Linked DNA regions of Homo sapiens. The protein of the gene in region 3 interacts with the protein of the main gene of each other region in a pairwise test. Each region holds a gene or a part of one and is shown on either strand. Other genes may lie near its edges.

Region 1 (3,075 bases), on a different chromosome or scaffold from region 3:
TGCCTCTATGCCTGTGTGACTGCTCAGCCTGCCCCATTCCAGGCACTTGCTCATCTTCCTTATCTTTCTCTGTAGCATGAGAAATGGAAGTTTGAGAGGATAGGATCCTACCTCACAGGTACCTAATAAATGTGTGTGGAATTGACATATAGTGGAAGTGTCACTTTATCTTAGTGCAGCAAGGTGGAAAGAGCTTTGGAAAGGAGAGGAAAGATGGTGGTTGTGAGGGTAAGGTGTTTTCATCAGAAGGCGGGAGCAAGGGTATACAAACCAAAAAGTCAGTTTAGTATGTGGCTTAGCTCAGAGCACACGAGGGTACCAACACAGCCAAAGACTGTAAGAAGGTAGCTGAAGTCCTCTGCCAAATAGGATTGAAAAGCTAAAATCTTTCTCTGTTTCTTTCTTAAGTAACAACTGGTCTATTCAAGCTCAACCAGAGCATATAAGAGAAAAAACTGACTAACGAGGGGGTCTTAAAGAGCTTTGAAGGACAGTTTCTAGAAAGTAGAAAGATCACTGAGTAAATTACTGCACCTCCTCTACCCCACAAAAAAAAGGGTGAGGATGAATGTAAAAGTGTAGAGCAAGCTTTCAGACAACTTCAAGTTTGTTTTTGGCGCTTCCGTTTGTAAGCAATCAAGATGGTGAGAGACGCTATCCCAAAGAAGAAAGTCTGTAGGAACCAGAGTAGCTGAGCCCGACCACTTGTGATGCCTTTATGCCTAAAACAGAAAAAACAAAATTTAAACACGAGATGTTAATCTTACAGTTTCATGGGAGTTATTGTCTTCTATATATATATTTTTTAAATTATACCTTCCACTACTTTCATTGGGTTTATTTTGCTGCTTTTCTCTGGCTTATCTTGGATGGTTCATTTATTTTTCATCTTTCTTGTTTTCTAACAAATGTATTTTGGATGGTAAACTATTCCCTGAGAACTAGTCTGGCTACTGTCTAGGGCACAGTATTATAAGACTGTTTCTCATGTGATTCTGATGAGCGGATGGAGTAAAAAGCACTGGTATGGTTTCAGAGCAAATGTTTTGCAAATAGACCAGATATAAATCCTAGCGTGGCTACCTACCAGCTGTGACCTGGGCAAATCACTCAGAATCTCTCAGAATCAGTTTTCTCATCTGAAAAACAGGAACAGCAGTAGCTATCTCACTGAGTCAGTTGAGATGATTTATGGGATAATACACACAACATGCTCAGGAAGGAGCCTGGCACACAGTCATGATAAACACCTGCTTATATTGTCATTCAAATTCAACTGCCTAAAATGAAGTGCAAAAAAAAGATGACCCAATGGAAGGGAATGGCTTGCTACAGTCTCATCTGTACATAAATAAGTCTCACTTGGATGACTTTTATTTAAAACAAACTTTAAAAACAATATATGTAAAAGCAATATAATTTTCTACAGTAACAGATTAAAACAGAAAGATCATATGAATATCTTAATAAATGCAGAAGTGGCATTTGACAAATTTCTTTTTTTTTTTTTTTTTGAGATGGAGTCTCGCTCTGTCACCCAGGCTGGAGTGCAGTGGCGCGATCTTGACTCACTGCAAGCTCTGCCTCCCGGGTTGATGCCATTCTCCTGCCTCAGCCTCCCGAGTAGCTGGGATTACAGGAGCCCGCCACCACGCCTGGCTAATTTTTTGTATTTCTTTAGTAGAGATGGGGTTTCACTGTGTTAGCCAGGATGGTCTCGATCTCTTGACCTCGTGATCCACCCACCTCGGCCTCCCAAAGTGCTGGTATTACAGGCGTGAGCCACCACGCCCGGCTGCATTTGACAAATTTCAACATCCATTCTTTTTCCAACCCCCCCAGAGATGGGGTCTCACTCTGTCACCTACAGTGGAGTGTACTGGTACAATTATAGCTCACTGCAGCCTCAAACTCCTGGGCTAAAGCTATCCTCCCACCTTAGCTTCCCAAGTAGCTGGGATCATCACAGGCACGCACCACCATGCCTGGCTAGGTTTTTTGTTTGTTTTTTGTAGAGACAGTGTCTTGCTTTGTTGCCCAGGCTGGTCTTGAACTCCTGGCTTCAACTGATTCTCCCACCTCAGCCTCCCGAAGTGCTGGGATTACAGGTGTGAGCCACCTGCATCCACATCCAACATCCATTTTTAATAAAACTTCTCAGCAAAGTTAGAAATACAATGGAACTTCCTAATTTTGACACAGGAGATCTACAAAACTCTATAATAAACATGATGCAAAATGTTGAAAGTTCTCCTTTGAGGTCAAGAACAAGGCACACTTCTAGTCAGCACTGCTGGAAGTTCTAGCTAGTAGAATAAGGGAAGAAACATAAATAAAAGGTATACAGAATTGAAAGAAAGAAATAAAACTGTATTTCTGGACAGTTTTATACCTAAAAACTGAAAATAATCTATAAACTGTTACAATTAATAAATTTATTTAGCAAGATTGCTGGGTATAAGGTCAATATAAAAAATTGACTATATTCATACAAAGTACCATCAGACAATTAGAAAATGAAATGAAACAAAGGGAGCCAAGATCATGCCACTGAACTCCAGTCTGGGCGACAGAGCTAGACTCCATCTCAAAAAACAAAAACAAAAACAACAACAAAAGTTGGCCAGGTGTGGTGGCTCAGGCCTGTAATTCCAGCACTTTGGGAGACCGACGCAGGTGGATCGCTTGAGCCCAGGAGTTTGACATCAGCCTTGGCAACATAATGATACCCTATCTTTTTTTTTTTTTTTTGAGACGGAGTCTTGCTCTGTCGCCCAGGCTGGAGTGCAGTGGCATGATCTCAGCTAACTGCAAGCTCCGGGGCCTCCCGGGTTCATGCCATTCTCCTGCCTCAGCCTCCTGGAGACCCTCCATCTTTTTTTAAAAAAAAGTCATTTATAATAACATCTCAAAGTAGAAGTTGCTGGAAATTAATGTAACAACAATGTGTAAAACCTCTTAAAAATTATATATATATTAAAGGAGATCTAAATAAATGGAAACAGATCATTTCATCATTTAGAAGACTCAATAATAGAAATATTTGATGCTTTCCTGACCTTAAGGAAAAAAAAA
Region 2 (4,382 bases), on a different chromosome or scaffold from region 3:
GGCAGATCACAAGGTCAGGAGATTGAGATCGTCCTGGCTAACACTGTGAAACCCCGTCTCTACTAAAAATACAAAAAAATTAGCCAGGCGTGGTGGCGGGTGCCTGTAGTCCCAGCTACGTCGGAGGCTGAGGCAGAAGAATGGCGTGAACCCGGGAGGCAGAGCTTGCAGTGAGCCGAGGTCGCGCCACTGCACTCCAGCCTGGGCAACAGAGTGAGACTCCGTCTCAAAACAAAACAAAACAAAAAAGACCTGCCTTAAACCAAACTTCCAATTCTCAAATACGTTACAACTTGCCTCTCCCCCTCTGAAATACTACCAAGGCTCTGTGGAAGTGTTCCTCACTGCAGTAAGCTAAAAACCCAGCTCTGTCTTACCACCTGGCTGGGTTGCCGATATTTTGGAAGCCAGCATTTTAAAAAAATGTTATTAAATGAAATGAATATGCTGTGCATGATAAAAGCTGAATCATGGAAAATTATTTAGGTGGTAATACTGACTGATAATTTATCAACAATTAGGGAGTATCAGCCCAAATGGTAGTCCAGAAATCTAGATCTAAACATTAGTATTTTATTAATGGCCTAGATCTAGATGAAAAACTATAGAAAATGTTCATTACACTTACAGGTGACATCAGCACAACCTGTAGTGAAGTGTACCAAAATGAAGAAGTAATTTACAAAAACACAATAAGGCTTTTACAATAACAAAATAAACTAGACTAAATGCAGTGTTGAATCTCGGATTGTATCCCAGGGCAGTAAATGGATAGTGGAACAACCAGTGAATTTCTGAATAGTATCTACAGTCTAAAATGATATTATAGCTATGTTAATTTCTTAAGTTTTGACCGATGTACCACGGTTATGCAAGATACAAACCTTACGGGAAAGTCGGTGAAAAGTACATAGAAATCTTTGTAATGCTTCTGTAAATAAAACCAACCACCTTTACAAAAACTGTAACAGTGAGAAAATCATAACAGTGAAAAAAAATCTGACCTAACCAACTCTATCTTGCCTTTAACCTTCAAGCTGCCCATGGTCATTCCCAAGTGAGAACCAAGCTAACTTTGGAAGAATTTAGTTTACAGGTTAAATGATAACAGCTCTTCCCTAAACTAAACTGCCTTTATAAAACTAATAAAAGGTCACAAGTTTAGGATTATGAGAGGGGACTGAATTTTGTTGTGATTACATGTAAACAATTACCAGCCACTGGTCTGGAGATCACAAGATTTGCAACTTCTCCAATTACTTCTACACATAATATCACTATTAAAGAAGCTAAGATTGGCCTTTTAAAAGATAGACCACTTTCAGATTTTTATATTTCTGATGACTGGATAACTCCTCCCAAACCAGCAACTCCTGTGGCCCCCCCATCCAGAAATGGACTCAGCATACAAGGACCATTTTCCATACCCCTGCAATTGCCTCCCCAACCAATCAGCAGCACCCATTCTCTAACCCCCTGCACACCAAACTATCTTTTAAAAAGTCTAGCCTCCAAATTTTTAGGGAGGTTAATGTGAGTAATAATAAAACCCTGGCCGCCTGTTTAGCCGGCTCTGTGTGCATTAAACTCTTTTTCTCTATTGCAATTCTCCCGTGTTGATAAACCAGTTCTATCTGGGCAGCAAGAAAGAAGAACCTGTGGGGTGGTTACATAAATCAAAGTTGTTCCAAAATTAAAAGTTTATTTGAAAATAATAATGTATTTATGAAAGAAGCTGCACACATCTCAAATGGAGGAGAGACGTTAACTGATCTCTGGATTGTTTTCTCCTCAACTTCACAAACCAAAATCCCTAAGTAGCAGCCCCATGCACAAACACACAGGGATCTTACCTGAAAGCACACTATTCCACGTGTGCTCCCCTTGACTGGCCACAGCCTCAATGTGCACCCTCTTTTCTCCCACTTCAGGGTCTAGCAAGTGAAGGAAATCAGAATATTTCACCCCAAATTATACTTCTTTGACATATTTTGAGATGGCTGTTCAGAGGGCCTGCAAACAAACAGCCCTGCAAAGCTGTCTTTTGTGAGGTAGATTTGTGTCTGTAGAGAAAATCTGCATTGATGCAACCTGGCCTTCTCTGAAGGTTCTCTCTTGTCTGGATCTAGGAAAGACTAACTGAGAGTCTGACACTTTTAAAGGTCTGAAAGAAATATTCACCATCTATTCTCTCTGAGGGCTCCTCCCTATGAGGTTTCATCTACATGACAGGACCACCTTTGCCTCAAGATGGTATATAAGCTTCTGAGCCTCTTGGGGTTCAGGTAATCACTCTGTCTCCCTCCTCCCACCCCACACGTTAATAAACTTGTATGCCATTTCTCCGATTAATCTACCTGTTGTCAGTTTTTTCTGGCAAGTCTTCAGAGGGCAGAGGGGAAGTTCTCCCTTGGTCTCTACATAAGTCATGTCTTAGCTCTTTCTGTTTCAATACTCATTCCCACTCAACCCATTAGATCTTCACCAGCCCACTTCCCTGCCGACCTGAATCTGTGGTCATCCACTTCAATCTTGGCTTCACTGACTCTCTAATTCCCTACATCCTGGACCTCTGGCACTCCCCAGGCCTAAATCACTCCCATTGCTTTTCTTATTCTCAGCTATTAAATGGGGATATTCCTAACACACAGTCACACAACACTGAACGTGACTGGAACACATCTGAACTGTCATTTTTGGGAAGTGTGATAGGAAATGACCAAAAGGTAACTATTATAAAACTATACAGAATTATTAAACTCAGTGAAGATTCAACTGAATACAAATTTATTGTTTAAAATTTAATTGTATATATACCAAATTATATATAAATATATACAAATACAAATATATATGAATTGAGTTAAACCAAGTTGTTTCTAAGATCCCTTGAAGCTCATTGGTTCTGAGTTCCTACTTTACTAACTGAAGGCATCCAACATTTGATCTTCTCCTTTCTGCTTTTCAAAATGTTCCTGTATCCACTCTTCATTCCGTCTTTCTTTTCTTAAGGAAAAGACATGCATCCCTCTTTTCTTTCCTTGGATATCCCAATAATCCATAGTCTCTACCCCATGTTTGCTTTCTTTTTCCTAGGGCCTACCCATTGTCTTCAACATCTTTACTCATTTGACTTTCATACAAATATATATCTCCCCTCCTCTGAAAAGAAAAATCTTCATTAATCCTCCTGTCTCTCTAGTTGCCATCCTGTATTCCTTTCACTGCCACTTTATAACAATAACTACCAACATTTCACCTCTCAATTTCCTCAACCTAAACTTGCTTCTACTTAGATCTTTTGCTAAACTCCACGTTCTATCTCAGCCCTTATTCCTAAGTACTACTGATGATGTCCTCTAAGCCAGGGGTCCCCAACCCCCAGGCCACAGACCAGTACCGGCCTGTTAGGAACTGGGCCTGTTGGGAACCCGGCTGCAGAGCAGGTGAGTGGTCTGCGAGTGAAGCTTCCTCTGTATTTACAGCCACACCCCATCACTCGCATTACCACCGAGCGCTGCCTCCTGTCAGATCAACAGCAGCATTAGATCCTCACAGGAGCTTGAACCCTGTTGTGAACTGCACATGCGAGGGATCTAGGCTGCATGTTCCTTATGAGAATCTAAGGCCTGATGATCTGTCACTGTCTCCCATCACCCCCAGGTGGGACTGTATAGTTGCAGGATAACAAGCTCAGGGCTCCCATGGATTTTATATTATGGTGAGTTGTATAATTATTTCATTATATATTACAATGTAATAATAATAGAAATAAAGTGCACAATAAATGTAATGTACCTGAATCATCCTGAAACCATCCCCCCAACCCATCCGTGGAAAAAAGTGTCTTCCACAAAACTGATCCCTGGTGCCAAAAAATTTGGGGACCACTGCTCTAAGCAATGCCTCCTCCTTTTGCTCTCAGGACCTTCATTATCTCTTCCTCTGTATCTGCAACCCTGTGCCTAGAATGCTGATTCAAGAAAAAACCCAACACGTCCTTTGCCTAGAACACCCTACCCAAACCCTTGTAAACCTGGTGAGTCCCAGGAATCTTTTCATTCCCAGCTCAATCCTCATCCACTGTTTAGAGCTTTTCCTACAGTCTCCAGGTAGACGCCAAGCATGCCCTCTATGCTAACAATGAGCCTTGTACAGACTTCCAATAAATCTAACTCATATATGTCTCCTGCAGGGTTCCTTGAAGATGTCCCTTGTCATTTTTCAAGTACCACTCCAACATTTAACACTTGGGAACATTCCTCTGCAGGTAAGAAGTATTTTTTTCACTTGCTAATTATCTGGAGTACAGAGCCTTCTCTCAGCATAAGTCACCAGTCCGGAACAAAGGGAGTGTCATGTTAATAACACCATTATTAAAA
Region 3 (4,382 bases):
TAAATTCCTACTTTGTCTTCCTCCGAGGTTTTTGAATAACTGCCTCCTCAGCTGGCTCCGCATCAATACCATTTTCATTTCGTAATAAAGATGAACTAGATGACTTCTTTTGGGTGGAGGAAGTCTCCAATTCTGAAAACAAAATAAATTTAACTTTTCAAATAACTAAAACATAAAAAGAAAAGTAATGTACAAGACTTGTATAAGAGAAAAGAACTTCAAGAATTTTAATTGGGCAAAAATGTTTTCACTATCTTACAAATTTTTAATTTTTTAAAAATGTTATACTTCTAAACTCTCAATGTAAAAATTGAAATTGTAATGCCAAACAATATGGAAAAAAATTAAGTAACCCAATACCCAGGCTGTGCTGAAGATTCCCAAGATTATCTCCTGGTTCGCTGACTTTCTAGAAGGGCTCACAGGACTTGGAAATCATCACACTCACAATTATGGTTTACTACAGCAAATGGATATAAAGCAAAATCAGCAAAAGGAAAAAGTACATGGACCAAGTCCAGAGGAAACCAAGTACAAGCTTCCAAGAGTCCTCTATCAGTGGAGTCAAATAGGATGTACTAACATTACTGGAGAGTAATGAGTTGTGACAACACATGTGACACATGTTGTACAAAAGAAGCTCATCAGAGACAGTGCCCAAGGTTAGGGGCTAGTCACATAAGCCTAGCACATACCAAAATTCTGGATGCCCGGAAGGGAAACAGATGTTCAGCAAAAATCACTATGTGTGCACAAATGCACCGTGAGTCACCTTATAATTTAGGGAAAGTTTTCTATCAGTGTAGGGAGCTGTTTATCATCCAAGTTCCCAGATGCCAGCTAACGGCCAATCTTATCAGCAGGCTTTTCCAAGGATAGCAGTCTCAGGTCTGCTATATTAACTCTTTTCTGCACACAGGGTAGGTATTAAGTTTAAATGAGTCAGTGAAGCCTTCTTCTAATCCACTAGCTACTCTTCCTACCTGGAAATACTAGCTCCCTGGAATACCTTCAAGACCTTACAATTCTATTGTAATAAAATACTTACAGCCTCGACTGGAAATATAATGCAAGCAGTAGAGCCTACCATTGGTCATCCTGAACAAAATAAATAAAAACACAATTTTTAAATCCAGAAACTTAGAAAGGTGAACCTGCCAGGCTTGGTGTACTTTGGAATGGCAATGACAGGTCCTTTTTGATTCAAAACTTAGTTGGGTCCTGAATTTTCTAAAAAAGTCATTTCTGTAAACACACTTTTCACAAATTATAAAACTAGGTATTGGTATCCATCTTGATTTTTAAACTTGTATCTTAACTAAATTACTAAAAGGGCACTTTTAATGAAACTACATTTACTGCCACTAATGAAATAAACTGTAGAGTAGTTAAAGCTAGTCTGAGCACCATTTCTGTCTCTTTTCCTTCTTCTGCCATCATCCGCCCCTTCGTTCTCATAGACCCTCAGTGCCCCCAGGCACTGTGGCATCCCACTTCAACTTGCCTTCCAAAATTATGCTCCATTCTCCTGACTTTTCTAGTTCCTGCCCTTCTACTCCTATAATTCTTCCATCCAATCAAGACACGCCGTTTTCTAGAAGGACAAGTAATTAGGAAAATTATAATAAATTATTAATAAGGGCTGATGTTAATAGGAGAGCACTAATCTCCCCATCTTTGTTCCTTCCCTGAGTTTTGCTCCAATACAACTCTTTGTCATTTTTCTAATTATTATAAAAGTCATAATGCTCAAAATATAAAAAATTAGTAAAATAAATGAAGGAAGAAAATTTTAAAAATCATACTTCCTCCTTCTAAAACTTCTACCACTGTAACACTGCTATATTCTTCCATTCTTTTTACTATGTAGATGTATGTACATATTTACGTTCTGGGTTGAACTGTGCTCCAAAAAGAGATATGTTCAAGTCCTAACTCATAATACCTGTGAGTGTAACCTTATTTGGAAACAAGAGTCTTTGCAGATGAAATCAAGTTAAGATGAGGTCATGCTAGATTGGAATGGGCCCTAAATCCAACAACTGATATCCTTATAAGAGGGAAATGTGGACACAGACACACAAGGAAAAATGTGAAGATGGAAGCAGAGATTGGCATTATGCCACCACAAGTCAAACAATGCCAAGGACTGTCAACAACCATAAGAAGCTAGAAGAAATGGCCAGGCGCGGTGGCTCACACCTGTAATCCCAGCACTTTGGGAGGCCGAGGTGGGCGGATCACCTGAGGTCAGGAGTTCAAGACAAGCCTGGCCAACATGGCAAAACCCTGTCTCTACTAAAAAATACAAAATTAGCCGAGCATCATGGCAAATGCCTGTAATCCCAGCTACTCAGGAGGCCGAGGCAGGAGAATCGCTTGTACCCGGGAGGCAGAAGTTCCAGTGAGCTGAGATCGCACCATTGCACTCCAGCCTGGGCTATAAGAGTGAAACTCCATCTTAAAAAAAAAAAAAAAGAGGCTCGAAGAAACAAGGAAGGATTCTTTTCTAGAGACTTCAGAGGGAGCATAGTCCTGCAGACAACTTGATTTTGGACTTCTCACCTAAGAACTATGAAAAAATAAACTGTTGTTTGAAGTCACACAGTTTGTGGTAATTTGTTATGGCAACCCTAAGAAATTAACATAGTATATTTTACAAAAATGGGATCCTCCAATACATACTATTTTATAACCTTTGTTCTTTGATTTAATAATACACAACTGATGATTATCTGTGTCACCCTAACAATCCTTTTAATGGGTACCTGGTTCCTATTTATGGATGAAGTATGATTTATTTAGCCAGTATCACACCGTTAAATATCTGGGTCATTACCAATTTCTACTCTTATAAATAACGCTGCAGTTAACATCCTTTAATTACTGCAGCTATTGAATTTACTACTATTCCCAGAAATCCAGACAGGCTGTATCTATGCTCCTATGAGCAAAGCATGAGTGCACCCATTTCCCATCAATATTGGATTTTATAATTTGAAAAAAGCATTGCCAATTTGATAGGCCAAAAAATGGTATAGTATTTTATTTACCTTGTGAACTGCCTGGGACATAGAAAGACTAAACAAATGTTAGCTGTTGTTTCACTATATTATTGTTAGTACAGAATCTACCATTTCCCCACTAATCTGAAATGTCCATTTCATCATTTACTAGATTTTTCTATGCACTGAGATCTGAACTTTCTGTTTAGTCCTGTATTTGTTGCCCTCCTCTCATAATCTATACATATATGATCAAAAGAGACCTGTAAAGTATTCTTGGCTTAAGCCATTGGAGTTATTCTAGTGGTAAATATTTTAAACATAAAAGCAAGAAACCACCTGTGGGATATGGATAGGGGGAAAGAAATGAAAGCAGAGAGGTTTTTATCATGTCATCAAAATCACAAGTGCTATCACAACTTAACCTTGGTTTCTTCACATACCAAGAGGTAGCCTTGTCTTTTTCTGTCTTCTTTGAACAGGAGCCTCTGGGTGCTCTTTGAGTTCTTTAGTTGATGGCTCATTGCCCTCAGAGGGCCTTCGACCAGCAGTCTGAGCAAGGCCTTCCAAAGAAGCACTTGCTATAGAAAAACAGAGTAGAAAAAAATGAGATTACTTGAGCAAAGATCACTGAATCTTAAAAAGATGGAGGAAAAGGTAACTAGAATGTTTCCTATAGAATAACCCCATCTCTTTCAGAACTAATTATCCCCCAAATCTTTCCTTCCTCCTCACCTGTAACTTTGGGCTTTAAGTTAGGAAAAGAAATAAATGAAGGAATAAGAAAGGCTGAGGAAGAAAAAACGAGGGGGCTAAAAAGAAGAGCAAAAGACAGGAGGAGGAGAAATTGCTTCAGAACATTTAGAACTTTGAAAAAGGTGGAAAACATAATAAAAACTGATACCATAGAGAATTCTCTTACTTGCCTCTTGCCTTAAGAATTTTCATCAGCCTCTATATAGTAAAGTCCTTCATTAATAAGTTAAAGAATAATAAAGTCATCATGGATAATTGGAGTTAGCAGGTAATTTATAAGTCTCTTCATTTGGTCATTCACTTCAACTTCTTCCCTCATGAAATCTTTTAAAAGAATTTTAACACATACCTGACTGCATTCCCTTCCTTGCTTGTCTTCTTCACAAAAGAAATAGAAATTGCACTGGGTGCAGTGGCTCATGCCTGGAATCCCAGCACTTTGGGAGGCCAAAGCAGGCGGATCACATGAGGTCAAGAGTTCGAAACCAGCCTGACCAACATGGCAAAACTCCCTCTCTACTAAAAATACAAAAATTAGCCGGGTGTAGTGGCATGCGCCTGTAGTCCCAGCTACTCAAGGAGGCCGAGGCAGGAGAATCGCTTGAACCCAGGAGGTGGAGG
Region 4 (4,382 bases), on a different chromosome or scaffold from region 3:
ACGATGGGAGTTCTTGAGATGGATGGTGGTGATCGTTCCACAACAATATGGATATACTTACCTCGCTGCTGAAATGTACACTTAAAAATCATAGTACATTTTATGGTATGTGTATTTTACCATACTAAAAAAAAACTGGGGGGGAAATGGGTATAGGTGACGGGAAAAAACATGTTGACCCTAACTCCTGACCAAGCTGGGCTCACCTGATGAGGGTGTTCTTACCCAGGCCAAGGAAGAATAACCCAAAATACAGCTTTTCAGACTTTGGCATGCATTATCCCCTTTTTCCGCCTTTCACATTTTCTTGCCCAACTCTGTTCTGCTGACTATGACTGAGGTTGGGGTAAAGCTGGGACCCTGGGGCCTGTTAATAGGAGAGGTTGTGGCATGTCTGTTACCCATTGTCAGATCCCAGCTGTTCCCAGCGATGCCCCATCAGTCCCAGCTGAGCTTTGGCATCAGCACAGGCACTCCTGTGTCCCTCTCAGCCTCTGTCCATCTCACAGCTGCTGAGTGCCCCGCTGCACTTTGCCTAGCAGAATACCAGTGCATTTATGCTGAGTACTGGATGGAGTCCCAGACCAGTTGTAGGCTATCCTGTCCACTGGAGCTCAGCTCAGGGTGGGTGCCAACAGAACTACTAGCCGGCAGCCTTTCACCGTGGGCTGCAGAGCTGCAGATCACCTTTTTTTCTGGTATGGCTCAGAATTAGATGAGGGTGTAGAATCGAAATAAAGGCCACCCCTACTCAAAAATGTATCTGCCTCCACAACAATTCTTCCCAAGGAGAGACGTTTAAATGTCACGGCATCACTACAAGAGAAATACTCCCAATCCTAACAGTCATTTATATCTTGGCCTGAGTTATTTAATCAGATTGCTTTCCACAGCAGAGAAATTTGCCTGCATTTAGGTGGAGAAATTGGGGGAGAAAGAGCGTACTTTTGGAACAAGGTGTAATTTTGGAAACAATGGCACCCTTATCCTTCCAGTAACCAAGTTAACAAATATTTATTGATGGCCTAATGCTTTCCAGCACTTCACTCATCACTGAGGACACTGCAGTGAGCAAGACAGACACAATCCCTGCCTCCCTGCCTGACGGAGGTTACGGCCTCACCAAGTTTCCGGGGCTTCCTCTCTCCTTCCCCATCTCCACACTGCATCTGTGGCAAAGTCCTAGCCATGCTCGCACTTGCAGTATCTCTCTAATTGGAACTTCCTTTCCGTCACTCCTCTGGGTAACTTACCTAATAGTGCAGTAGCTGGACCCATCTTTAACCTCCTCCTTCCCCTCTGTGCTGGACACTGATTACTGCAGGACTAACCTTTCTAAAGTGTATTCTGAATACCTCCCTCCCAAACTCAAAGGCATTCGGTGGTGCCTCTACGTCCTATTTAGTTTTTTAAAATCCAAACTTCTTTCTGGCATATGAAAATCTCTAAGTGTACCTCTCTTCTACCCCTCCAGTATCTTCTCATTACTTTCAGCTAAGATGGTCTACGTTCCATCTTCTGCCACATGTGTCTCTAACTGCGTGCCTTTGTATATTCTGTTCCTTCTACTTACAATGCCCTTCCCTTCTTTGTTTATTCCAGTTCTCAACCCTGGTTGTACCTTAGGATCACATGAAGAGCTTCAGAAAAAAAAAAGAAAGAAAGAAAGAAAAGAAAAAAGATGCCTGGAAATCAACTCAGCCACATTCAGCTCTAAACCCGGGCAGTGTAGCCAAGGGCAGTGTAGCCAAGGTATCGGTAATTTTGAGAATCTCCCCCACTCATTCTGATGTGCAGCCAAGGTTAATAAATGCTATCTTTGTCCAGCTGCCACTCCACGTAGACCCCTTTCTCCAGACTCCAAGAGCGCCTGTCGCCTGTCGTTGGCACTAATTTGGCGCATAGCACATTCTGTTTCATGCTCGCTTCATTAAGATTCTCCTATCGGAAAAGTCTCTGTGCTACCCCATGATCTGTCCTCACCTGGGATGGTGAGGACGGCCGAAAGTGCTGGCTGATGGTTTGGTATGTTTGTCTCGAGGAGCGGAGAGAACACAGCTCCAATCACCAGGCCTTGAAACTGTGCTGCGTGGGGGGCATGAAAGGGATGGAAAACCCAGTCCCATCAACGTCAACAGCAATGAATCATCCTGATTGTATCGTCTTGGTGTGATGTGATGAAAATGGCACTTTCCCTCTGTGATCTTCCTCCCTAAAACCCATCACTCCAGTCTAATCATGAGGAGAACATCGAACAAATCCCAACAGGGCCACATCCTACAATACACCTGACCAGTGACCCTCAGAACTGTCAAAGTCCTGGGAAGCCTGAGAAAAGGTCACCACCCAGAGGCACCAAAAGAGGCACGACTCAATGGAGTGTGGTATCCTGGATGGGATCCTAGAACAGAAAAAGGACATAAGGTACAAACGAACGACATTTTAATAAAGTGTCAATGTTAGTCAATATTATTGTACCAATATTTGTTCATTAATTGTAACAAATGTACCACCCTAATGTAAGATCGTAATAATAGCAGAAACTGCATGCCAGGGGAGAAAATTGGAACTCATACAATCTGCCCAAGTTTTCTGTAAATCTAACTGTTCTAAAAAGATAGTCTATTCGTAGAAAAATAATAAAAATTCAAAAATTCAGTTAAAAGCAATCCTCAACCCCATCCCAGCACTCCGGCTCCTGCTCACCTTTCCGGCATTTGATGAATCTGTAACAGGAGCTGGGCTTCTCTGGTTCAGAGCCTCAGAGCAAACAAACAACCATCAAGGGCTTTTAAAGCTGCCTTTTAAAACAAGTGCTTTGGGTCGACCAGAGGCCACAGATCCATCAGTGGAAAATGCAACCAGTTCCCTCAATTTGCATTTTAAATGCCCATCAAATAAACAATTAAGCATCAATTATTGTTAAATCACCTAACTTGAAATGATTGCCCGCCCCGCCCAGCCAGCAATGTTCCAGAGAGGAGTCGAGGAGGAGACTGGACTCAGAGACTGGCAAGGGAAAGGACAGAGCAGAGGGTGGTGAAATTCCAGCAGTCCATGGCTCAAGGAGGCTGCAGACACTGCTGAATTTCCCAAGCTGCCAGGAAGGCAGCTGGACAGTCTAGGAGCAGGACAGGGCACCTCCGCCCAGCGCATCACTGTGGCTGACACCTCCCAGGGTGGCCTTTCCCTCTCCTGTCAGGCGCCTTCAGTAGCCCAACGGCTCGAATGCTGCCCCTCCAACCCTCATTCATGGAAGAGGGGCACTCCCACTGCGAGGGTGCTGGAGGCTGAGTCGTCAGGTACCCTGGACTCAACCGGCCCAGACCCAACCCAGCCCGGCTGCACAGGGTGGAGCGGGAGAGGCAAAACTCTCTTGTCATATAGCAGGGGACTTATTTTTAACCTGGAGGCACCTTTATCTTTAACATGAAAACATGAAGTTCTTTCTAGGGAAGAGAAACTTGGACAGAGGAAAAAGAAGAAGAAGAAGAAGAAGAGAGAGAGACAGAAAATAACTGACTGTGAAAAGAAATAAGGCCTCTTCCTTAGAAACAGAAACAGAATTCACAAATCACAAATCCAGGCCTGTTTTCTGGAAGTCTCCCTGGAAAGATCCCAAGCTGGACCATAAGCGGAGGCATGGTGGAGAGATCTTAGCCTCTGGTCTTTCAGTGCGTGCCGGCCTGGCTTTGTCCTCCAGCTGCATGCGGGTCACTGTCATTCCAATCACATCCCCTCATCCTTGGCCCTCTCTGCCCACATCAGATATTCTGAACTGGGGCAGCCCCATTCTCTGGGCCCCAGCCTGGTCCGTGGGGCCCCAGCCCCCTTCCCAGGTCTTGCTGTCACCTCACCATCACTGACAACCGTGACACTGTGGCATCCCAGCCATCACCCATGGACTTCTCACAACAGCCCTCAGAAGCAGAAACACAGAACAGTACTGCGAGGCCAACTCAGGCACAGGCCAATGCCGCGCCTTGCCCAGAGGGAGTCAGAGTGGGATTCAGGCCTCCTGCCTGCCAGCACAGGGGCTGAGGCCCCTCTGGTTCCCCAGGAGATCTCGGTCTGGCTCCAGAGAGTCTGAATGGTGAGTGGTATTGCACAGAAGCCACAGGCTGGGGCCCCAGCAGGCTGCACGCCCCAGCAGGGCGTGATGGAGTCAGGCCAGGATGGGATCACCTCCCCCACACACCTGCTGACAAAGGCCCATTCAAGACAGGACAGACAGCAGTCCCAGCAGCAGACACAGAAACCCAGAGCAGCTGCCAGGGCCAGGAACCCAGAAGCCAGGCCCACGCCACCCTGCCCACAGCCAGGCCACAGCACCAGGCAGCCCCCTTTGCTCTCTCTGCCTACCTCTTTAGAAGGACAGCTCT
Region 5 (4,382 bases), on a different chromosome or scaffold from region 3:
CGTTGGCCTTCCCGTGGCCAAACACCTGCAGGGAGAAGGGCAGGAAGATGGGGCAGATGACACCACCCTTTTAGGAGAGAAGCTGCAGGCTGGTCAGGTCTAGCCCAGATGAATCTTAAAGACACAGACCAGCAGAAACGCCTTTCACAGTAGGTCCCCGGGACATCACGCGGCTGGCCTGGGAAGAAGCCCTGACAAAGGGCTGCAGCCCAGGAGGCTTCAGAGCTGTGCCTACGCCCGGCTTGCCTGCAACCTGTGTGGCCCCAGCCTGCCCCCCCGCCTCAGTTTCCCCGACCACACAACACAGGACCAGCGTCTCCAGGGCACTCGCGGTTCCCCAGACCCTGTGGTGACCTTTCTCATCAGGCCACCCTCACCTCCCAGAAGCTGAGGCCCACGGGGCCTGTGTGCCTGTCCCCTTCCTGGACACCATGCCCTAGGCCCGGCTGGGACTGAAGATGCAACCACACAAAGGCCCTGCGGGTCGGCACCCTGCCGAGGGACCAGCGACGGGCAAGGATGGCTCTGCCATCCACGACCTTCCCACAGCTGCCCCTGGGCCCAGGTAGCAGGAGGAGCCACAATCGGCAGCTCTGGGCACAGCACACGGACAGGACCCATGCGGGCGTCCGTGCAATCCTCAGAGCAGCCACACACACTGGCTGCAGGTGGCTGGTGACGCCACCTCCCACGGGCTGAAGAGCTCAGCCACACAGAGAAAGATGTGGCAGGCAGGCAGAGGGCTTCTGACCAGACAACAGACCAGGCACCTCTGGACACGTGGCTGTGGGCCCTCACAGCCGCTCCTGACACACCCGGGGCCGAGCTCGGAGGGACCTGCAGGCAGGAGGGCTAGAATTGCCTCTGCCCACCACCCACCTCCCACCACTCCCATGCTCTGTGCAGTGGCCAGGGGCAGAATGACCACCATGGGGTCCAAGCCGCGGGCATGCGTCCCACACACGGCACTGTGAGGATCCCGCAGGGGAGGAGAGCCCCCGACCCTGACCTTCCAGGGTCCCCCCGACGAGGGTGCGGGACTCACCTGCAGGAAGGGGACGATGCCGTCACGGGCAATGGCCTGCAGTAGGCGCGGTGCCCCCGTGAGGCTCTGCAGGCCGGCACCGCAGGTGGAGAAGAAGGAGCCGATGACGATGACCCAGGGGGAGGGCCAGGCCAGCATGCCGATGACCAGGTTCCCCTGCAGGGCCTCCCCGAACCTGCAGGCAGGCGGGCAGGCGGGCGGGCGGCTTTCAGAAGTGAGCCTGAGTCAGACAAAATGTCTTCTCCCACCCAGAGCGAGGGGCCCAGTGCAGTGGGGGCGACTCCTTGGAAAGCTGAGGCCCGGCCTCCAGTCCCCGTTGGCTGAAACCTCCACCAGGCTCTGCCCAGCATGGCCAGAATGCTCTGGAGGGTCTTCAGCGGGGGAGGGGGTCCTGCTCACCTCAGGGTCGCTCTTGGGAGCAGGGAAGACCCAGCCTGGCATCAGCTTCAGTCAGGGACCACCCAGGACCCCCGGGGCCTTGGGGCTGCCAGACACGCACACCCCATGAGGATGCAGGGTCAGTGATGACCTGCCTGGGACCCCACTACTTCTCCACTTGCCAGCAGGGCTGAGGGATCTCCCAGGGCCAAGCCTCACCCGTCCACACCCCTGTGGCCTCCCCAGGAAGGGCCTGCGCCCCCAGCCGCATCAGGGCTTGGAGTTGGCTCTGAACGGTTCCCCAGGCCCTAGGCTCCAGCGGAAGAGACGACACATCAGACCAAGGGATCCCAACCCTGGGACCAGGACGCCTTCAGCTCTGCACGCGGACATGAAGTCCTAGGGCGATGTAATTTCAAAGCCGAATTCATCCTCAGGAAAACCCTTGAAGACTACAGGCTTTGCACGAAAACTGCAGGTGGAAACGTACTTATCTCGTAAGACCACGCCTTCAATGCAGGCCCCAAACAGCACAATGCAGGAGAGATCCACAGCCCTCGTCAAGGAAAGGCAGGTCCGTGGGTGCAGGGTCCTCAGGTACGGGGGGTGGGGTGGGGTGGGGTGGGGTGGGTGGGGAGATGCACTGGCCAGCGGGCCGCAGGATCCAGGTGGGCGGGGACCGTTCTGCATCCCATCCCATCCCGGGCACGTCCTGTCCCCCGTGTCCTCAGCGCACCCTCCTGGGGCTCTGTCCAGCGCCACAGAACGGGGCCCTGGGGTGGTGGACACACACCTGGCCTGGTGCTTGACCGCCAGGGATTGGCAGGGGACCATGCTGAGGGGACAATGCTCGGCTGGAAAGAGGCAGCCTTGGGATTGAGAAGCCAGAGGCCCCGCGGGCCCAGCCTGCCGGCGGCACACCCCACACACCGCTGCGCATCACTGTCCACACGCGGCAGGGTGACTGCTTCTGTTTTCTCTACGATCGCATCACACAGTGGTGAAGAAGCCAGGGTCCTGACAGCAGCCCTTGCCCCGTCTCCCAGGGAGGATGACGTGGTGAGAGCACAGCCTAACCTGGGAAGTCACATGCTGGTGGCCGAGGGTATGATGCTGAGCCGGGGAGGGCATGGGGGCCTCCCCCCAGGCAGAGGCTGGAACCCTCGCCTGCACCCCTCCAAGGATACAGATGAAAGACGTCGTCACTATGGCCAGGATGGTCCCCGTGGGGATGGACTTCTGTGCATCCTTGAGGTCCCCGGACCGGTTTGAACCCGCCATGATACCTGTGAACATGGAAAATGCTGCAAAGACCCATCTGAGGAGTCAGTGCCATGTGATGGCAGCCCCTGCCCAGAAAGCTGGAAAGGCGGTCTCTGGGGAGACCCCGAGCGTGAGCTGCAGCCGAGGCTGCAGTCCAAGCTCCGCCAGCCCACGCTGCAATACTGCGGCTGAGGGGATGCGGGCCCAGGCACGCGGATGAGCACCCACGTCTACTGCTCCCCTGGATCCGAGGACGAGAACCGACCCCGTCACTGACCCCCACGCCCCCCACACCCAGGGCTTCTCTGGAGCCTGTGTTAATCCCATGGCCAAGGGTCAGCCCAGAGACGGTGCTGAGCAATGGCTCACAGGCCCCCAGGACCTAAGGACTTTGGGAATGAGATCCTAGAACGACTCAGCCCAGCCAGCCAGGCCAGCAGACGCTGCGACCCCTCCCGCTGTGGCACCACCTTGCTCTAGGGAGCCACGGCCGGGGATGTTTCCACACAATCGGCTCCTACAAAGCTCTGGGAAGCCGGGTCGGTGGGGGCCACTTCACGCCTGGCTCGGTCCCATCCAAGGCGCAGCCTGAAGCACCCATTGCTCGGGGTGGCCTGGGAGGCAGCAGAGCCCACAATCCAGTGCCGCGGAGACACCCGGAGCCACGCAGAGGCTCTGCCCCCACGCCCTCCACCCGCGGCTCAGAGACACCCGGAGCCACGCAGAGGCTCTACCCCCACGCCCTCCACCCGCGGCGCGGAGACACCAGGAGCCACGCAGAGGCTCTGCCCCCACGCCCTCCACCCACGGCGCGGAGACACCAGGAGCCACGCAGAGGCTCTGCCCCCACGCCCTCCACCCACGGCGCGGAGCGCACTCAGACGGACGGGGGAGGCTGGAGCGGAGGTACAGGGAGAGGACCCCCGGCAGATCACCCCCTCCATAGCAAGACGGGCCCACCTTCAGTGGAGGCAAGGGAAACACGAGAAGCCAGCGCTGTGGCCAGGCCCTGCAGCTGACCCTGGGCTCCAGGGCTTTCGGATGTGCTGAGATGAAGTCCGGGAGCAGACGTGGGAGGGACCAGAAGGGACCAGAAGGGCAGCTGCAGGCTGCACAAGCAGCCAGCGCCTGTCAGGGGCGTCCCGACAAGAAGGCCGAGTGGAGACAGCCGGGGGCGTGTGTGTGCGACTCGAAGAGCACGGGGCCTGGCCCCACCCCCTGGGGAACAACCAAGGGCCCCACCCACCGCCGGAACAAGGCCCACTGTTTGAGGAGGACACAGAGGGCCGAGGTCCCCGGCCTCTGAGCTCACACTGAGGCCACTCCTAGGTGTCTCCTAACAGCCTGCCAGGTGTTCCCAGCAACCCTACAACAGCTTCTCCTGACACAGGGCTGCCTGGGAGAGCAGCAGACAGGCTTCTCACAAATCCATCAGGACGCAGGGCAGAGACCTCAGCCACTTCCCCTGAGCCAAACAGGCAAGATAAGCAGGGGCAGGAAGGAACACACTACAGAGAGAGAGACAGAGAGAGAGACAGACAGACAGACAGAGAGAGAGAGAGGGAGGGAGGGAAGAAGAGGGAGACAGAGAGAGAGAGAGAGACAGACAGAGAGAGAGGGAAAAGGGTAGGGGGAGAGAGAAAGAGTGCCGGAGGAGAGAATGACAGAGACAGAGAAATGGACAAAGACAAAGGAA
Region 6 (4,382 bases), on a different chromosome or scaffold from region 3:
CTGCCTGGCCTAGTGCCCCTCCCTGGACACCCTGGACAACCCCCAGCCTCTCCTGCTGAAGTCTGTGGAGTCATCCTCCTGCTATTCTCAGCTGCAGGGACATCACCTCCTCCAAGGCAGCACTTACTTCTCGGGGCTCCGGGCCTGGGCCTCACGGTACAGGTAGACAAGGCTCAGGAAGTGCACAAAGAACTGGAGCATGACGGTGAGGATGGTGTACAGGTTGAAGATGTTGGGCAGGGGCCGTTCTCGGGAGAGGGTCTTGAGGGGCTGCAGCAGCAAGGCGGGTGGGGGAGTCAGGATCTGGCTCACTTGGGGCCACCCTGCCCACACAGCAGGCAGTAACATCCCCTGCCTCCCGGGAGACCTTGTGTACAGCCACCACCAAATCCTGGGGGATTCCATGGGTCAGCACCAGTCCCTGGATCCCTGCCTGCCTCTCACCCCTGAGCCCAGGGCTGCCTCCCTGGCCCCGGCTCCGCCATCCAGGCTCCCCATGGCAGCCACAGGGGCCTGAGAATCATGAAGCAGATCCTGCCCTCCCTGGAGCCCACGGGACAGGCACAGTCCCGCCCAGCCAATCTCCCACCCCCTCCAGCCACCGGGGACTCCCTGCGTCAGCCCATGCCTGTTTGGGGCCTTTGTGTCCAGTTCCTGGCCGCTGGCCCCCCTGGTTCTTTACGCCTTGGCCTGAGTGTCGGTGTCGCACAGGCCTCCCCAGCTGTCCACCAGCCTGTCCTGTGTAGCCTATGACCCACTTAGTTGTTTTTTTACCCTCTTGATGATTGTTCCTTGCTTGTGGGGCTCTGTGGGGCCCACCCCTGGGACCCCTACCTGTGGACAGGTGTGGACGCCAAGCTGTACCACCTGGAGGGGTCTGGGAGCCTCAGTCCACACCTGCCCTGCCAGCATTTCCTGAGCCATCCCAGCTACAGCCCCCATCTCTGGGGCCCTGGGTCCTGTAACTTGGGGATGACAATTCCCGTGCCTATATCAGCCTGGCCCTGGCAGGCCCATGCATCCCTGGCCTTCCAGCACCTCTGGGGCCCACCTTGGAACGGGAGATGAAGAGGAAGCAGCCGGCCAGCAGCAGCCCCTGTAGGGTGGCCTGGAAGTCACTGAACTTGACTCCCTCCAGGTAGAGGACGCTCTGGCTGTAGGCCAGGATGAGGGCATTGAGCGCCAGGATCTTGAACATCTGTAGCGTGGTCACCAGCGTGCAGCGGCCCTGCTTGATCACGTGGCAGACTGCAGGGTGGTGGGGAGGCAGGTGTGGGTGTGGGTAGGGGTGCCAAGGGGGGAATGAAGGGAGGGGGAGCGGGGGCAGGCAACTCACTGCACTGGATGGATGAGAGCTTGGAGGTGAAGGGTGCTGCGATGCTGGCATCCCCCAGTTTCACAATGGGCGTACTCTCGTCCTCGAGGTCTCGCAGCACCTGGCTCAGGCGGTCCTGCAGGGTAGACAGCAGGCTGTCAGCCCTGGCCAGGATGGGGTGCAGCACCTCCCCTCTTGGGACTCACCCTCTGGGAGGTTGGCTGCTCCTCGGAGGGAGGGAGCCCCGACCGCTGCTTGGCTGTCCTGGAGGTGGCTCTGATGCCACTGTTGCTCAGGGTTGGGCTGTCCCGGGGCCGCCGTCGCCGCTCGACAACCCGCTCAGGGGCATTGGCCAAGAGCGCCACACCTGGGGGGCAGGAGGGTGTCAGACCCGGAGGAGCAGGCTCCACGGAGGGGAAGATTGCTGGCTTCAGAGCCACTGGTCCTGAAGTCCCCCAGCTGGCTCCCGTGAGGACAGTTCCCAGACTTCCCCATTTCACCTGACACCCTAAGGAGACCTCAGAGAGTGCCCGTGTTGCTTTCTACAAACTACTTTAAGAAAACAAACCACCAACAATAAACCCCCACAACAAATGCAATGAAAAAACACACAACACGAGATAGGTCAAAACTAAACTGATTTTGGCCGAGCGCAGTGGCTCACACCTGTTATCTCAGCACTTTGGAAGGCTGAGGTGGGCGGATCACCTGAGGTCAGGAGTTTGAGACCAGCCTGGCTGATACGGCGAAACCCCGTCTCTACTAAAAATACAAAAATTAGCCAGGGGTGGTGGCATGTGCCTGTAATTCCAGCTACTCGGGAGGCTGAGGCAGGAGAATCGCTTGAACCCGGGAGGCGGAGGTTGCAGTGAGATGAGATCACACCACCGCACTCCAGCCTGGGCGACAGAGCGAGACAGTCTCAAAATAAAACAAAACAAAACAACCTAAACTGATTTCAAAAGAAATAGCCAAGGAGCATGATTCTAGGAGGCAAACAACACTCAATAAATGCTTTAGTAGATAAAAGCAGATAAATATTGGAAAAGCAAAAAAACCAACGTAAGATTGATCTTTAAAATTCAATTTAACACCTGAGTTCTTGCAAAAAAAAAAAAAGAAAAAAGAAAAAAAGGCCAGGTGAGGTGGCTCACACCTGTAATCCCAGCACTTTGGGAGGCCAACACAGGCGCATCATCTGAAGTCAGGAGTTGGAGACCAGCCTGGCCAACATGGTGAAACCCCATCTCTACTAAAAATACAAAAATTAGATGGGCATGGTGGCTGGCGCCTGTAATCCTAGCTACTTGGGAGGCTGAAGAAGGAGAATTGCTTGAACCCGGGAAGTAGAGGTTGCAGTGAGCTGAGACCGTGCTATTGCACTCCAGCCTGGGCAACAAGAGAGAAACTGTCTCAAAAAAAAAAAAAAAAAAAAAAGGCAGGGTTCGGTGGGATGCAGTGGTTCACACCTGTAATCCTAGCACTTTGGGAGGCCAAGGCGGGTGGATCACTTGAGGTCAGGAATTGGAGACCATCCTGGCCAACATGGTGAAACCCCATCTCTACTAAAAATACAAAAATTAGCCAGGCATGGTGGCACGTGCCTGTAATCCCAGCTATTTGGGAGGCTGAGGCAGGAGAATCGCTTGAACCCGGGAGATGGAGGTTGCAGTGAGCCCAGATCGTGCCATTGTACTCCAGCCTGGGTGACAGAGCAAGGCTCCGTCAAAAAAAAAAAAGACAGGGTCTTGCACTGTCACTTAGGTTAGAGTGGATCACACCACTGCCTTGAACTCCCAGACTCAAGTGATCCTCCCGCCTCAGCCTCCCAAAGCACTGGGATTCCAGGCAGGAGCCACAGTGCTCAGCCATCTGTGTGCTTTTGACAGAGATCTGGGGCTATGAACCATCTTCATGGCTTCAGCTCTGGGTTTTCTGAGTCACTCTCCCAACTTGTTGCCTCTCTCCTGGCCTCTGGCCTCCGCCCTGCTCTGTTCCTGGGATATTCGCATCCCTTCCTGCCCTCAAAGCCCCTGACCTTGCCACCCCCTCCCATCCTCACAGGAATTAGTGCCCCCGTGGCTGTCACCAAGGGCCAGGTCTGTCTTTCTAGCTCAGTGACATGTCCTCAACACCTCGTCCACAAACGAAATACCCTAGCCCACAGCACTCACCCACGTCAGCATGCTTCAGGGCGCCCACGTCGTTGGTGCCATCCCCACACATGAGGGTCACGTAGCCCAGCTCCTTCAGGCTGGTGATGACAAACTCCTGTATGGGCGGAGACAGGCTGAGCAGGGGCTGCGTGCCTACCGCTGTGCCCCTGACCCCTAGGGCTGTGCACATACCTTCTGCTTGGGAGCCACACGGGCGAACACCTGCACATGGGGGATGAGGCGGAGCAGCTGCTGGGGGTCGGTGGCCTGCAGGTGGGCCAAGCCGTCGCCTGTGAGGCACAGTGCGTACTCCAGGGCCAGTGCCTTTGGGGAGCCCCGGGCCAGGGGCAGCACGATGCTGCCGTCAATGGAGCGCCACTCGCACTGCCGGCCTGCGGGCAGCACCTAGGGTTAGGGCTGGGGGCTTGGCTGACCGGGCTCAGAAGCACCCTCCCTCCACTCGGACCCCAGCACCAGCCAGTCTCTCCTCTCTGGAGCCCGCACCTCCCTACCCACCCAGGTGACCCCCAGCCCTTCTCTGGGGACTCCACAAAGAATGTCCCTCAGGTGCACAGGGTGGAACCAAGAGCCTGGGGCCTGAGCTACTTGCCTGAGAGCCCGGGACACAGCCAGATTAGAACCTGGGCAGTCTGACCCCAGCTAAGCCATGCCCCCACCTCATGCAAGGCCCCCTAACCTGAAACACACAGAAGGGGGCTATTGCGCTCTCCTTGGGAAACCCCACACCAGGCCCTCACCTCATTTATCCCTGCGCCCGTGGCCTCTCTGAAATCCTGTTTTCTCGGGGCTGGGCCCCCTCCCAACTCTGACAGGGCCCCTGAGTTCTCAACATCTTCTTGCTCCACTTCCCCTTTCTTGCTGGCTGGCCCTGGCTTGGATGCTGGGCGCTG
Region 7 (4,382 bases), on a different chromosome or scaffold from region 3:
GTCTTTCCCTAAGAGCAATGGAGCAGCAGAGTGACCTGATTGCTTTCCTCTTTGAAAGGATCACTGGGCTGCTCTGAGAGAGGAGCGGCACGGAGGCTACCTGGGAAGCAACGGTGCTCTCTCAGCAGTGAGAGGTGGTGACAGGAAGATGGAGGAGAGAATGGACTGGAGATTTTGAGGAGGGAAAAATAACAGAACTGAAGGTTCAGCCGAAGGTGACAGATAAGGGGAAGGGGGAAGAGGAGGAGGTGGTGGCAGTGGTGGTGGCGGCAGCATAGATGACAGCCAGGCTGGCTTCTCTTGGTGCAGCTGGAGATGGAGGTTGTGGAGAGGGGAACTCTAGAGAGGGGTCTTAAGAGGGAAGCTCATGGCCCTGTTCCATTCCCTTGTTGGACAGATGAAGAGACTGAAGTCTCAAAGGCAGAGTTTGAAGCAAAAGCCAGATGGCACAACCCTCGGTCCATAGCTACAGCCATGCTTTTCTCTGGGGTTTCCTACCCTGTTTAGGGGTGCTCGTAGCATTTAGGCTTGCAACCAAGGAAGCTAAATGTCCTCTACCACAAGGAACCGTTGCACCCCAAATGCTAGTACTTATGGAGAAACACGGCCCTAACGTGATTTTAAGTTGACACATGGGCCTTGGAATGGGTTTTCCATTTTCTTGAGTTTCTCCTCTGGGCCAGGGACTTAACTCTGACAGGATATGCTCTTTACTGAACCATGCCAGGCCTCAGTGTCCTCATTTGGGTGAGATCAACCTGCAAGGGTTGTGCAGGCAACAGCTTGGCGTGGAGGAAGAGTGTGCTTGAGCCCCGCGTGTCCCCCAGCTCACTGTGCGGTCTGTGCTCCATCTCCACCTCGCCTCCAGACCTTAAGCTGTGCTGTTTCTTTTGCCCGGAACACCCGCCCTGCACCTTAAACTCCATCTTCAGGACCCAGGCTCAGGGGAGCTCTTCCTACACTCCCTGACCAGGCTGGAATCCCCGCCTCAGCCTCTTGCAGGCCCCAACATTTCTCATTTAGAATACCTGTACCTATAATTCCACAAACACTGGTGCAATTATGTGTGGTTTCCTTTCAAAGACGGGGGCCCACATTCTGTGCCAAATATGCAGTAGGCACTCAATAAATACTGTACTGAAAGAACCAAAGGGAAGTCAAGGAAGCTGGTCCCAAAATGTCAACATTGGACAACCCCTTCTAGTTCTCAGCTCGGAGCTCCCTCCCCAGTCCTGTGGCTCTAGACATTGCCTTACACTTTCTGGGGCACTAGATGCTGTCTGGCTGGAGGAGGGTCAGAAAGGATGGTTGGGTTCGAGTAGAAACATCTGAACTTTCTTATTCTTCTTGAAGTGGCAGGTAAACTCACAGAGCCCAGGTAAACTCACACACTACCAAGGCAGGTGTTTTAGGCAGATGGGTGCCCCCACAGGCAGCTACCTTGGCTAGGTTGCTGGTGGAGACGGTCATGGTGAAACAGATTGGGTATACAGGAGCCATAATCTCAAGGAACATGGCTACGTCATTGAGGATGTCCGCAAAAAGCCTGGGGAGGGATCAGAGGTTAGAGGTCAGAGGTAGGAGACTTTCATAATGGAAGACTCCCCTCCCCCGTCCCCGCCCCTCCTCACCTCCACTGCTTGGCATTGCAGTCCAGTTTGCTCCTGTTGGGGAGGAGAGGTTGTTGTAATTTGGACTTAAGGAGAAACACATCCTATGGGCAGTGTGGGGAGTCTTGGACCACAGTAAAGTCTGAAGAGCTCAGGAAAACCCACACCCCCAGACAGACATCTGTCCCCACAGCCGGTCACTGCTACCTAAAATGCCACCATTAGCTGGGAGAACCTTCAGTGACTGACTGATCACCTAGTGTCTCCCGCTTATGAACTCATGATTTACCAAGGAAAAACCCTGATTGTCTTGTGGCTGCTCCCCAGCCTCTGTCTGTCCTTGGAGGGAGGCTCTTCCTGAGTTCCTCTGCCTCTCTCCGTTCTTCTTCTTGCTTTAGAGTGAGGGTACCCAGTGAGCATGTTTTGGACTAGTAAACATCACATTGAGTGTGTAACCCTGCATGTTACAGACAACTAGCCCTCACAGGGGATATGATTTCCCTGGATCACACGCAGAGTTGGGGAAAAGGCTAAGAGAGCCGGGCTCCGACATCCAGGCCTAGGGTACTTCTGTTACACAACACCGTGGACGGCTACCTCACCTGCCCTTTTCGTCAGACAGTGACTCCCTGCCCTGTGCACAAACACTTGGAAACAACTTCTCTAGGGTCCCAGTGGCAGGAGATACTGCAGCCCCAGCCCAGCTCAGGATTTGCAGCATTAGGCCCGAGTCTCAGTATGAGATCTCCTGGAGGGAATGGGAATATTCTTGGGAGAGGTATCAGACACACATAACGAGATCCTGAACACATGGCCTGGTTGAGGGTTCTGCCCAGTGAACTGCCCAATACCATGGAAAGCACAGGCTTCAGGTTCAAATCCCATCTCGCTAGTTATAAGCTGTGTGGTTTGGGCAGGTAACTTCCCTCATGCAGGTATATTTCACATTTATGAAATGTACACATCCAATCCCATCCTACAGAGTTGCTGTAAGGATTAGAGACAACATACAGAGGCTCAGGGGGCACAGTTACAGCTGTTAATGGTAGCTAGTGTTTACTGAGCCATTATGTACGATGCCACGGGCATTAAGCACTTTGCATAGATCATCTCATGGAACCCTTACAGCCACAATTAATGGCAATACTATTACTATCATTACTACCACTACTGGGAAGAGTTGCCAGAGTTGCTGGCCGGGAAGACAAACTCACCCTTTCCACCAGGCAAAGACGATGCGGCCCAGCATGCCAGTTGAATCTGGGGGAAAGAAGGCACAGGTAAGGAGCAAGGAAGAGGTGTGGGAGCTGTGGGGCCTGGCAGACCCTGGCACTGAACTGGCCAATTCACTGAGTCACTGCCTTTGGGAACTCGGTCTGGTACTAGAAGTTGTGGATAGTCATAGCTACATAATGGGGTCAGAAGTGCCTACAAATAGCAGTTCCTCAATATGTCCCCTAGGAGACATGGACAAGAAATGTTCTTTGCAGAATTGTTCATAACAGCAAAAAACCTGGGAATAATGCAAATGTTGACTGACAGAATACATAAATTCTAGTATATTCACCCAGAGGCATTCATTCATAGATGAATACTATTAAACTCTTGCATGAAAATAACTCATGAAGACCACATACAGCACAGTTTGCAAAGCTCTAAAATTAAAACTAAACAATATAGCACTTAGGAATATTTACCTATTTGGTAAAACTATTCAAAAAAGCAGGAAATCTTAAGTGGAAATTCAAAGGTTATTGCTAACCTGTTCTAGCTCTTAGGCTGGGCAGTTGGCTCACAGATGGCTATTATGGGATAAATAAATAAAAGGATTTAGGCTGGGTATGGTGGCTCAGGCCTATAATCCCAGCACTTTGGGATTACAGGGGGTTTGGGCCCAGGGACTGCTTGAGGCCAGGAGTTCAAGACCAGCCTGGGCAACACAGCAAGACCCCATCTCTACAAAAAGTAGGAAAGAAATTAGCCAGGCATGGTGGCATGCCTGTAGTCCCAGCTACTTGGGAGGCTGAGGCGGAAGGATGGCTTGAACTCAGGATCAATGCTGCAGTGAGCTATGATCATGTCACTGCACTCCAGCCTGGATGACAGAGCAAGACCCAGTCTCAGGAAAAAAAAAAAAAAAAAGATTTGAACTGCAGCTGGGGTTGCACGGCAGAGGGACAGGCCTCCTTAGGCTGGGCAGAGTAAGAGAAGTCTCTGGAATCAGTGGGACCTTCGTTTGCACAACAAATGCTTTCTGGCTACCTAACTCTCTCTGCCAGGTACTTCATGACCACAGTGACCAAGATGATCCCAGGGTCAAAATCCAGCCAAAGAGCAGATAACAATCAGTATAGAAAACACTGATTTAGACCAGGAATCACTAAACTGTTTCTACTCCCTGGTTTTGGAAATAAAGTATTACTGGAATGCAGCCATGCCTATTTGTTTACAGATTGTCTATAGCTGTTTTTGCAAGACAATGACAGAACTGAGTTGCTGCAACTAAGATTATAAAGCCTGCAAAGCATTAAGATCTGGCCCTTTACAGAAAAAGTTTGTCAATCTGGACCATCCATTATACAGAGAGCAGCACCCATTAAGCCTGGCAGAAATATTTTAGAACGAGACACCTGGGAGGGACTCATACAGTGGACATGGGAGAGGACAGATACCATGGGGAGAGGATTTGGACTTGTCTGAGCTTGAGGGCACTGACCCTGAGGTGGGGATGTAGGAGAAAGGACACTACGTTATGGGAATGAGGGCTGGGAG

What was found.
Region 1: the proteins of TMEM237 (region 3) and TMEM254 interact in binary tests that used the Homo sapiens proteins (3 or more experiments, as listed by UniProt).
Region 2: the proteins of TMEM237 (region 3) and CDS1 interact in binary tests that used the Homo sapiens proteins (3 or more experiments, as listed by UniProt).
Region 4: the proteins of TMEM237 (region 3) and FXYD6 interact in binary tests that used the Homo sapiens proteins (3 or more experiments, as listed by UniProt).
Region 5: the proteins of TMEM237 (region 3) and SLC12A7 interact in binary tests that used the Homo sapiens proteins (3 or more experiments, as listed by UniProt).
Region 6: the proteins of TMEM237 (region 3) and ATP13A1 interact in binary tests that used the Homo sapiens proteins (3 or more experiments, as listed by UniProt).
Region 7: the proteins of TMEM237 (region 3) and RUSF1 interact in binary tests that used the Homo sapiens proteins (3 or more experiments, as listed by UniProt).

What each region holds. Positions count from the first base shown.
Region 1 is NC_000010.11:80,088,444-80,091,518, reverse strand, and holds part of TMEM254 (transmembrane protein 254), read right to left. Parts: intron 1,140-3,075; coding exon of another isoform or gene 1,107-1,139; exon of another isoform or gene 1,088-1,106; intron 723-1,087; coding exon 602-722; 3' UTR 1-601.
Region 2 is NC_000004.12:84,585,675-84,590,056, reverse strand, and holds part of CDS1 (phosphatidate cytidylyltransferase 1), read right to left. Parts: intron 1-4,382. UniProt on the Homo sapiens protein: Catalyzes the conversion of phosphatidic acid (PA) to CDP-diacylglycerol (CDP-DAG), an essential intermediate in the synthesis of phosphatidylglycerol, cardiolipin and phosphatidylinositol.
Region 3 is NC_000002.12:201,633,300-201,637,681, forward strand, and holds part of TMEM237 (transmembrane protein 237), read right to left. Parts: intron 3,587-4,382; coding exon 3,449-3,586; intron 133-3,448; coding exon 12-132; intron 1-11. UniProt on the Homo sapiens protein: Component of the transition zone in primary cilia. Required for ciliogenesis.
Region 4 is NC_000011.10:117,866,193-117,870,574, forward strand, and holds part of FXYD6 (FXYD domain-containing ion transport regulator 6 precursor), read right to left. Parts: intron 1-4,382. UniProt on the Homo sapiens protein: Associates with and regulates the activity of the sodium/potassium-transporting ATPase (NKA) which catalyzes the hydrolysis of ATP coupled with the exchange of Na(+) and K(+) ions across the plasma membrane.
Region 5 is NC_000005.10:1,076,788-1,081,169, forward strand, and holds part of SLC12A7 (solute carrier family 12 member 7), read right to left. Parts: intron 2,710-4,382; coding exon 2,611-2,709; intron 1,972-2,610; coding exon 1,914-1,971; intron 1,221-1,913; coding exon 1,046-1,220; intron 26-1,045; coding exon 1-25. UniProt on the Homo sapiens protein: Mediates electroneutral potassium-chloride cotransport when activated by cell swelling. May mediate K(+) uptake into Deiters' cells in the cochlea and contribute to K(+) recycling in the inner ear.
Region 6 is NC_000019.10:19,646,078-19,650,459, forward strand, and holds part of ATP13A1 (endoplasmic reticulum transmembrane helix translocase), read right to left. Parts: intron 3,864-4,382; coding exon 3,664-3,863; intron 3,587-3,663; coding exon 3,490-3,586; intron 1,683-3,489; coding exon 1,522-1,682; intron 1,452-1,521; coding exon 1,337-1,451; intron 1,249-1,336; coding exon 1,052-1,248; intron 271-1,051; coding exon 128-270; intron 1-127. UniProt on the Homo sapiens protein: Endoplasmic reticulum translocase required to remove mitochondrial transmembrane proteins mistargeted to the endoplasmic reticulum.
Region 7 is NC_000016.10:31,497,862-31,502,243, forward strand, and holds part of RUSF1 (RUS family member 1), read right to left. Parts: intron 2,871-4,382; coding exon 2,825-2,870; intron 1,665-2,824; coding exon 1,632-1,664; intron 1,547-1,631; coding exon 1,441-1,546; intron 1-1,440.